Regions from separate parts of the Homo sapiens genome. Here region 1 is linked to region 2. The links come from fine-mapping of genetic effects on gene expression. A gene starts in region 2. The other region holds a variant in brackets. All regions are shown on one strand. Distances are between the middles of the regions.

Region 1 (5,368 bases), 93 kb after region 2:
CATGACCATTTTACGTCATTTCCAGAGTTAATTGCTTTTTTCTGACGTTTCTGAAAACTCACAAACACACACAGTCCTACAATATTGAGTCCTCCAGGAGGTTCGTGAAAGGAGAGAAAGGACCCTGATAAGCCCTCTTGAATAGGCTTCTGATAACTTTAGTGTAATGTCATTTGGACTGGGTAAAAATTCCCGGAACTCTAATGGAAAGATTGACTGGTTTATAAAATTGCTAACCTGGGCAGGACAAAAATTAATTGAATACCAAGAAAACACTTTGCCAGCTTTTCATGCTAAATCAGCCAGTACTGATATTGTTTAGATACCCAATTTGAATTAAATCCATCGTCCAAGTCAAATTACCTATGATAACCCTTCTAATAAACAGTGCTATGCACCTGAACTGGAGAAACAAAATTGGTATTTAAGAAGATATAAGTCCAGCATCAAGCATGGACACATGGACAGCCAAGATGGCCACCTGGTCCTTCCTGTGTCCTTGAAGCTTCCACTATTAAATGCTCTGCACTCCATGATTCATCATGGAAGAGACAAATTAATCCAAATTTTATATATATATGTATATATAATATACATATATATATTTGACATGGTGACCGTTGTAAGTTGTTAAAATGGTTTACGACCAATGTTTGGTCTGCCAAACCCATAATCCTGGGAGGACAATCGAAACTTCCATTACACTTCTGCTACTTGATGGGCCATTGAAACATTGCTGGAGGGATTTCCTTCAATTGTCATTTTCAATGCGTGTTTTCTGGTTATATAGAAGCTTTCCCAGGCAAGAGCACTGATGTTATAGCAGTAGCTAAAAGATTATTAGAAAATTGTTTTTCTCATGGGACGTCCCTTGAGAAATCTCCCATGATAGATGTACTTGTTTCACTGCTCAAGTGGTAAAACTGTTAATAACTTGTTACAGATACAATAATATTAAGCAAGGGAAATGAATGAACTGGGCTGCCTTGGTCAAGGGTGTTGCAGGTGGATGGCCGTCGGGTCCATTTCCAGTGGAAAACATAAGTTGGTGCCTTATGAAATAGTCCCTGGAAGTCCTATATAGAACCTCATGTATCTTCCACTCCTCAACTCCGATATGGCTAAAGGCTCCTAGGCCTTAATGCATTATGCCTAAGTATATTTTCACCAGGTACAGAAAGCTTTTCATGGTCCACTGAGGACCCTATCAAACGCTTCACAATCTAGAACCCAGACATTTGGTTTTCTGAGAGTATCACAGAAAGACTGCCCTTGCCACCCACACTGCAGTGAAATTCTAGGACTTTGAACCCTGGGTTCGTTATCTCACCGCTCAAGAGGGCATCGCCAGACTCCAGCAACTGCAGCCCCATTGGAGATTTTAAGGTAAAGCTAATCAGGGAAGTTTCTCCCCAGAAGCAGCTGGCATCCCAGATATGGACAGCTTTTTCCCAAGAACTTGAGACTGTCATGCCTCTGAATAATAGAACTAAAAAGGGATCTCTTATGTGCACTCATGGGGTATACTTTTATTTGTGGAGGATTTTGCAGCCAATCCTATATGTGGACAACCTTTTGCCTTGACAGTTGGAAGACGAAGGGCCAATGTAGGTGAAAAAAAAAATTAGCTCACTCCAAGTCTCACTCTGTTGCCCAAGCTGGAATGCAGTGGTGTGATCTCAGCTCACAGCAACCTTTGCCTCCCAGGTTCAAGCGATTCTCCTGCCTCAGCCTCCCAAGTAGCTGGGATTACAGGCACCTACCACCAAGCCCAGCTAATTTTTGTATTTTTAGTAGAGACAGGGTTTCACCATGTTGACCAGGCTGGTCTCGAACTCCTGACCTCAAGTGCCCACCTCGGCCTCCCAAAGTGTTGGGATTACAGGCGTGAGCCCCTGTGCCCGGTCTGGGTGAAAAATGTTGAGGGTGCCTTTGTTGCTTCCCAATCAATCACAAACAACATCGCTCCACTCCTCTACATCACAGCTTAAAGAGAACTCTGGCAGGAGCTTCACTCTTCTAGATGGGCACTGTTTGTGAGGCCTCTTTTTCCATGGTTTGGAGTAAATGAGGCAAAGATTTAAAATGTATCCCTCTGCTGGGCGTGGTGGCTCACGCCTGTAATCCCAGCACTTTGGGAGGCCGAGGTGGGTGGATCACAACGTCAAGAGATCAAGACCATCCTGGCCAACACGGCAAAACCCTATCTCTACTAAAAATATTAAAAATAAGCTGGGTATGATGGCGGGCGCCTGTAATCTCAACTAATCGTGAGGCTGAGGCAGGAGAATCGCTTGAACCCAGGAGGTGGAGGTTGCAGTGAGCCGAGACATGGCTGGCGCCGCTGCACTCCAGCCGACGGAGCGAGACTCGGTCTCAAAAAAAAAAAAAAAGTATCCCTCGTAATTGGCTCTGGAACAGATTCTACTCCAAAGGCTATGGTTACACAACAGTCTTTAAATTCTCTTGCTAAAGGTGTGTGGGATGATAGACTTGCTCTGGATCCCTTACTAGCTAAACAGAGGAGCGTCTGTGCCGTTGCCGATGCTTCTTGTGGCACATGGAGGAATGTATCAGGTATTAGAAAGGTT[C/T]GGTTGTAGGGGATTAACAAACAGGCTGCTTGTTTGAAATGAGTAGACTCTTTATCCAGCTAACTCTCTGATCTATTTGATTTTCGTTGGTTTGCTTCATGGGACCCCACCTAAGGAGCATGCTTCACATTCTTGGTATTAAATATGATCTTCCTGATGGTCATAATACTCGTCTCCCTGGCGCTCTGCATTCTCTCCGGAGTTTTAAATGTTTGCATGCAGCCATCTGTAGGATGCTAAATGGTGTCTCTTTGACTGGAGCAACAAGAACTCAAAGAAACACAAGGCCATGAGGATGTCGTAACCTAGGTACGAATGACATTCTGTGACCGGAAGCTGGAAGTGGCGGTGACTGAGGGTGGTGCCAAGGCCCTAAGGCTTGGCTACACTTTCCACTAAATGAGAACCTGACCAAAGGCAGGGAATTTTTAAACAAAATTATAAGAGGCCATTGTTTTGGACTGAGCTCCCGCAAGAGGCCCCAACGGACCAGACCAAACCCAGATGGAGTCACGCAAGCTAAACGCAACACCATCAAACCGAAGCTTTACGGAAGCAGATAGGTCCTAAGGCAGACCAGGGTTTGTTTTTCTGAGCACATGAAATTCCAGCACAAGGAGGTTCCTCTCTATCCCTTACAAAAATATATAACCCGAGGTCCTCGTTCCCACTTACGAAACCCATTGTTCTGCTATTTCCCAGTGGGGCTTGGGACCAAACAAGTACATTTACAATGGCGACAGGGACACCAATGTCTAAAGGGGGAAATCGTTAAATTAAGCTTGGCGTAAAGCTGCCTCCTGACATAGTTTATGTTCCGCCTTCTCCATCCACTGTGAACTGAAACCTCACTGGAGACGTAAACAGACTGAAGCCTTCCCTTGTGCCACTCACCAGGTTTCCGCTCATCAAGGGTGCCGGCCATTCCAACCGTGTTCAGATAAGGCAAGCATGGAGCTGCAGCCCCTCTGGCGGTTTCTGTGCTTTGCTTCCGTTTTCTGTGCCTCCTTTCCCTTTTCTGTCCACCAATCTTCAGCCACACGGCAGCACCAGAGCCTCTCTGAACCTATTTTGGTTTGGGGGCTGCCCCATTAGCGAGTGGTTCTTTGCTTAATTAAACTCTGTTAAATTTAATTTGTCTAAGGTTTTTCTTTTAACAGTACAGAAAAAGCATTTGAAAAATCCAACGTCGGTTCCTGATTTGTTTAAAAAACATCACTCAGTAAATTAGGAATAGAGGGAACTTCCCTAACCTAATACAGGATATCTATGAAAACCCCACAACCGATGGCGGAAGACTGAACAGTTTCTCACTAAGAACAGAAAGGAGGCTGGGATGTCCGCCCTCATCACCTCCGTCCAACATTGACCTGGAGGTTCCTGCTCGTGCAATTAGGCCCCCAAAAGAAATAAAAGCCATACAGACGAGAAAGGAAAAAGAAAACAATCTTATCTACAGATAACGTGACCATCTAACCCGATGGAATCAACAACAAAAGAAAAACCTGCAAGAACTACTCAGTGAGATTAACAAGGTTGTGGAATAACAAGACTGATATACAAAGTCCATTGTGTTTCTATAAAATGGTAATCAACTATCAGATATTGACATTAAAAATACCACTTCCTAACTGTATAAAAATAGACAATACTTAGAGGTCAATCTGACAAAAGATGTGAAAGACCTCCAAATTGAAAGAGTAAAAAATCCTTGGAAGAAGTGGAAGAAGACCTGAATAAATAGGGACATCCAAGGTTCGTGGATTAGTAAGTTCAATACTGTTAAGATGTCAACTCTCCCTGCATTTATAGAAATTCACAGGTCCATTCTAAAACACATATGGAAAAGCAGAGGAGGAGAAGAGCTAAAACAATCCGGAAAAAGAACACAATTGAAGAGCTAACATTCTAAGAATTCATATAAGACCAGTGTAAGCAAAACTTGAGTGATACTGGTGTAAAAATATTCAAGTAGATCCAAAAGAAAACGGTCCAGAAATCAGCTTACACACACAGACTGATGACTTTTTTTCAGGCAGGGTCTCACTCTGTTGCCCAGGCTGGAGTGCAGTGGTGCAATCTCTGCTCGCTGCAGCCTCAAATTCCCAGGCTCTAGGGATCCTCCCACCTCAGCCGCCCAAGTAGCTGGGACCGCAGGCACCCACCACCATGCACAGTTCAGACTTTTGACAAAGGTGCAAAGGCGACTCGGTGCACAACTGTAGCTTCTTCAAGAAACCATGCTGCAGCAATTTCATATTCTGGAACAACTGGATCTCCATATGCAAAAAGAAAAAGAAGAATAATTTGCATTCGTACCTCACACTATACACAAACATTAACTCAAAAAGGATCGTGGGTCTAAATGTAAAGCTGGAGCCATAAAAACACAGGAGAAAATCTTTATGGCTCTGGATAAGGCAAAGATTTCTCAGACATGATACCAAAAGCACAATTCCTAAAAGAACAAATTGACAAACTGAAATTCATCAAAAATGTTTAAAATTTGCTCTTCAGATGGTTAACGGTGAGAGGACAAGGCCACCAACCAGGAGAAAAATCTTTGCAAATCTATTTCATCAAGGATTGATTCAGAATATATACAAAGAACTCTCACGGTGGCTCACGCCTGTAATCCCAGCACTTTGGGAGGCTAAGGCAGGCGGATCACTTGAGGTCAGGAATTCGAGACCAGCCTGAACAACATGGTGAAACCCCACCTCTACTAAAAATACAAAAATTAGCCCGGCGTGGTGGCAAATGCCTGTAGTTCCAGC
Region 2 (5,368 bases):
TTGGTGTCCAGGGCGGAAGAGCAGGGTGGTTCCCCACGTCCCTTGGGTCTGGCCTCCCCTCTGCACCCTCTCTTGCCCCCTCCCCATCCAGCTGTGGGCCCTGGGGACTGTCAGAGACCGAGGGGTTTCCAGGGACACACTTGTGTGCTAAAACCTGGGCGGGTGGTCACCCCCCAGGATGCATGTAGACATCCGGTGAGGGAGTCTCTTGAAGTCTCTGGGATGGTGCCCCTGGGACTGGCTGCCATCTCATGGAGGAGGTCAGAGGTCGCTGGGGCCAGCCCAGGGTGAGGCCGCATTCATCTTCCTGACCCTACAGGCCAATTTGACTTACCCAAGTGGGTTTTGGCCGGCAGGATGAAGTAACCCATCCATTACATGTCAAGAGTTAGGTCTATAAACGGCCTTTATTATAAACATCCAACTCTGCAGGAGGTTTACAAAGCAGGGCTCAGGAGATAAAAGCCGGCTTCCCCAGGTGGCGGCTGCAGGGTGCGGCAGGCAGCCCCAGGGGTGCCCAGGGTGGCGGGGCAGGGGAACCGTAGGGAGGGGGAGAGGGGCACCCAGAAAACCTCTCCTGGAGAACATGGAAGACTCTGCCCACTTCAAATCCCTGCCTGGGGAAGGACACATGGGAATGGGGCCGGGGGAAAAGGCGGGCCACCTCGGGCCTTCGTCACCTGTGTCAGCTCCTAGGGATTGTCTCCTCCTGGTCACTTGGAGAGAACAGGCGTGCTGGACACGTCCACATCTCTGGGCCCGGGGTGTATGAATGACACGCTTGCTCTGGAGTTTCCACCTGGGAGCTGTATGGGGACAGGGCTGTTCCTCCTCACACCCGCTGGGGAAGGGACACAGGCCTCTTGGTGGCCCCCACCATCTCCCAGCACTGCCCATGGCTGTGCCCACGCTGGCTGCCCCCTGAGAGCAGGACGTGTACTCAGGGGCAGCGCCTACCTCTGGGCAGCCCAGGTTTCTCTGCTCCCTGCAGCGGAACGGGCTTCCTAGGGCAGTTCCTGGGGTGGTGTCCCTAGGGCAGCCCCTGAGTGCTGGAGGGGGTCTGGGCCACAGGCCCTGAAACAGGGAGGTGGTGGGGGCAGCGTTCAGGGGGCTGAACCTCAGGGTGAGGCGGGCAGGCGGGGAGCCACAGGCCCGGGGGCCCCGCAGCAGGTGCTCAGCCTCGGAGCCTCCTGCCGCACCCCGGGGCGGGGGCTGGGAGCCCGCCCGAGCCCCTAGCTCTGAGCGACCTGCCAGGTTGGAATGTGTGTTTATCTTTGGCCCAACCCGATTTCCTGCTTTTTAGAAAAGGGGCTTAGAGAGGGTTGTTAGACAGGCTCCAGGCACCCCAACACCCAAAGGCACTTTGAAAACGCCCCTGCACTGACTTCAGTGCGGAGAAGCAAACGGGCTGGAATTTCACTCCCAAACCCCAACATGGGGGTGGCGGGGCCGGGGTGAGGGTTGTGGCTGCCTGCAAAGGTGCCAGGAAATCTGGGGAGGGAGGAACTTCCACCGTTCAGGGAGACCCTGAGGGTGCCCTGGCTTCTGGCCACGTCCCAGACCCTGTTAGGCACCGAGGTCTTCACACCCAGACCCTCCACCCACCCAAGTTTCTGCGGCACGTTTAGGTTGAGTGAAGACCAAGTCATCCAGTTAGAGAAGAGGACTTGAGGCGCGTGCTGCTGCTGTGGCCACGCTGGACCCTCGGTGCACGCATCTCCTGGCGAGTCCCCTGTGGCTCTGTGGGCCGTACACACCCGGGGCACGCGACCTCAGCTACCTTGTCACCGAGGACGTGCATCCACAGCTGTGCGTCTGTGCCTGGGAGCGGGGTCTCCACTTGGTGGGTCTCTGCATGCTGACCAGTTAACCCGCCTTTCCGGGCTGTGGAGGGCGTGGGTCCTGTCCGGCCCGGAGATGCTCCGCGGGGTGTGTGTGTGATCGTGGCCCTGTAGCGGGGTGGTGTTCCCTGGAGGGTGGACCCCTGAGCCTGGCTGTGTGTGGCTGTGTCTCAGCATGAATTCCGTGACCCAGGAGCACGTTTTCAGGCAGGGATTAGGGGCAGCTGGGTGTGGGAGGCAGGCACTTGGTATACCACCGAATGGAGACAGAAAATCCCAACTCTACGAAGGAAGTGAAGTCCCTTCAACAGGGACAAAGCGATGTTTTGGGTCTGACTACAATGCACCCTGGGAAGTCTCAAAGAAAACAGTCGGGGACTCAAGGAGGGCAGCCCCCTCTCCCCGACCCCGAGCTCCCAGGAAGATAAATGATTTCCTCCTCTCTAGAGATGGGGGTGGGATCTGAGCACTCAGAGCCAAGGGCGCAGTGGGTCCGGGCGGGGGCCCTCCTCGGCCCTCCCAACATGGGGGCCAGGAGGTCAGCCCCTCAACCTGGACCCCGGCTGGGTCTCAGGGAATGGTCTCCCCCAGTGGCCCAGCTTGCTTGTGTTTTCAGATGGGTGTGCACGGGTGTGTGTGTGTGTGTGTGTGTGTGTGTGTGTGTGTGTGATGCCTGACAAGCCCCAGAGAGCCAAAGACCTGAGTGGAGATCTTGTGACTTCTCAAAAGGGGGATTGGAAGGTTCGAGAAGGAGCTGTGGTCAGCCTTGCTCTCCCTTAAGGCTGTGGTAACCACACTAGGCATAGCATAGGCCTGCGCCCCGTCCCTCCTTCCCTCCTCCGCGCCTCTCCTTTCTCTTTCTCCCCCCTCTACCCCGCTCCCTGGCCTGCTCCTGGTGACACCGTTGGCCCCCTTCCAGGGCTGAGGGAAGCCAGCGGGGGCCCCTTCCTGGAAGCCCACCTGCAGGCCGGCTTGCTGGGAAGGGGCTGCTCTCGCAGAGGCTCCCGCCCGCCCTGCAGCCGTTTCCTGGAAGCAGTCGCTGTGGGTATTCTGTTCCTTGTCAGCACTGTGCTTGCAAAGAAAGCAGACACTGTGCTCCTTGTCCTTAGGGAGCCCCGCTCCATCACCCAACACCTGGCTGGACACAGGCGGGAGGCCGGGTCCGCGGGGAGCGGCGCGGGGCTGGGGCCGGACCAGTAAACACACACGGGCGCCAGGCACTGCAGGCTCCTCCTCCTCCTCCTGCCCAGCGCCTCTGCTCACAGGCACGTGCCAAGCCCCTAGGCCAGGAGGCCCAGCAGTGGGTGCAGAGCAAGCTCCTGGGAAGGGGGTGCAGGGCGGACCCCCGGGGAGAAGGGCTGGCAGGGCTGTGGGGGACGCTGACCGTGGGCCCCACGTTGCAGAAAACTGGCTGCCTGGCTGGAAGATGGGGGAGATGCCAAGCCTCTGAGGCAGCACGAGCAGGGTGCATGGAGGCCGGGGCGCGGGGAGGCTGCACTGCAGCATGCACCCCAAAGCCCAGAGGGAGTGGAGACCAGGCCCTGGAATCGAGAAGTAGAAAGGCGGCTTGGAGGCCTCGGAACCGGCTGACCTCCAACAGAGTGGGGCCGGCCCTGGAGGCAAAGAGGTGCCCGGGGTCCGGCCCTGCCTGGGGGAGCTATGTGTCATGGGCAGCCACAGGATATGTAGCCAGCTCTGAGCATATGGACCCAGGGCAGGGCTGCAAGGCAGGGCAGGGGAGACAGACGGGGGAGCAAGGAGCAGAGAGGGGGCCTCAGGCTCTCCCAGGAGGAACATTCTCCCGACAGGAGGAAGAGACGGCCCAGGGGTGACTGTGGGGAGCCATGGTGGCAGCTGGGGTCGTGGCAGATGGGAGAGAGGCTGGCGAGGTGAAGGTGCAGGGGTCAGGGCTCTGGGGCCCACATGCCTGTGGGAGCGGGCAGGCCCAGGGCTCTCCGCCACTCCCCACTCCCGCTTGGCTCATAGGCTGGGCCCAAGGGTGGGGTGGGATGAGCAGGAGATGGGGCCCAGGGGGCAAGCAGGGCCCCAAAGACATTTAGAAAAACCGGTTTATGCAGGCAGCATTCAGAGCAGGCGGCGTGCGTGGCGGGGGCCCTGGGAGCACAGAGAGGCACACGTAGGGCCCCCGAGGGTCTCCCCATTGGCCGGCAGTGACATCACCCCTGTGTCAACAGTGATGTCTGCAGCTCCGGCCAGCCAGGGTTTATGGAGCGAGACCCAGCCCGGCCTGGGCCCTCACTCCCCAGGCCCACACACTAGCCCACTGTTCAGGGTCCGGGGTGGCAGCATGGCCTGGGGGTCCTGGCACCGCTGCTCCTCTGCCCACCCTAACTTCCCGGCATGGCGGCTGCCCCCTCTGAGCGTCCCCAACCAGTAAGTGTGGGGCCAGCAGGCCTGCCGTCCTCCTCCTCTTCCCTCTAGAGAGAAACGTGGAGGTCCTGGGGCTGGGGGCGCTCATAGCCCTGTGACACAGGTGCATGGGGTCAGGGGTCCCAGAATGGCCCCTGGGAAGGACCTCAGCTGGGCCGGCGGCTCTAGGCTTCAGGGGTCTGTCTGCACAGGGGCTAGCCCCTCCCAGACCTCTGTGAAGCCAGTACGGGCCTCCCCTCCCTGCCCCGTGCTCTGTCCGGTGCTTCCTGGACTGCACTGCGGGCCACTGGTGAGAGGGTGGACAGGGAAGGGCCGCCGTGGTGCCTGTTCCTGCCCACCTGGCTGTGTGGTCCCCTCCAAGTAGGGACAACCCTTCTGAGGGCTTGGGGGCACCCTGGGGTTGCCAGGGCCTCCCAGAGCCCTGTGAGCCCCTGGGGGGTCTGGCCTGATGCCCCCCTCCACGTCCAGGGCCGGCTGTGGCCCAGAACCCCAGCTTCCCAGCAGGCCGGTGTGCGGTGGTGACCCAGGAGAGGCCTCACCTCCACTGAGGGGCCACCGACCTCTGCCAGGCCACAGAGACCCCCAAGGAGTCTGAAGGCTGGAGACCCGGGGCTGGGACCAGGTGGGACTTTCCCACGGAGCCGCCCCCAGGCCCAGCTGGGGACACGTCCCCCTTCTCTCCAGACACACCCTGCCTGCCACCACGACACACCGGCCTGTTGGGGGTCTCTTTTAAGTGCTTGCCACTCTGAGGTGACTGTCCCTTTCCAAAGAGGTTTCTGGGGCCCAGGTGGGATGCGTCGGCCTGAGCAGGAGGATCTGGGCCGCCAGGGGCTGGGGACTGTCTCCTGGGGAAGGAAGCGCCTGGGAGCGTGTGTGCTGACCCAGGACCATCCAGGGAGGCCCGTCTGTGGGGCAAGCGGGAAGGGAGCGGCTGGAGAGGCTTGGCCGCCCCCGCCCTGCCTCCCATTCCTTAGCTCCATGCCTGTCAACCTCTGTCACCCAGTGAGTGATGTCCAGGGGCCCTGGAAAGGTCACAGCATGTTTGAGCGGGGTGAGAGAGAGGGGAAAGGCGGGGGCGGGGAAAAGTACGTGGAGGAAGCTCTAGGCCCAAGGAAGGAGAAAGGGTTCTGGGA

Evidence for each region.
Region 1: its variant is fine-mapped to the expression of LINC01219 in tibial artery (GTEx, PIP above 0.99). The same link has a PIP of 0.9 or more in tibial nerve.

What each region holds. Positions count from the first base shown.
Region 1 is chr11:1,895,263-1,900,630 of GRCh38, reverse strand. It overlaps LINC01150 (long intergenic non-protein coding RNA 1150), which reads right to left and starts at 3,872. Exons shown (of 4, transcript NR_120534.1): 1 at 3,486-3,872. It also overlaps a transcript of PRR33 not described here. RefSeq lists an enhancer at 2,612-3,811. The variant C/T (reference allele first, on the strand shown) is at 2,592.
Region 2 is chr11:1,988,693-1,994,060 of GRCh38, reverse strand. LINC01219 (long intergenic non-protein coding RNA 1219) reads right to left here and starts at 2,965. Exons shown (of 3, transcript NR_126400.1): 1 at 2,802-2,965; 2 at 1,781-2,123; 3 at 592-806. MRPL23-AS1 (MRPL23 antisense RNA 1) reads left to right here and starts at 4,141. Exons shown (of 4, transcript NR_024471.1): 1 at 4,141-4,235. It also overlaps a transcript of MRPL23 not described here. RefSeq lists enhancers at 2,252-5,368, 2,252-5,368.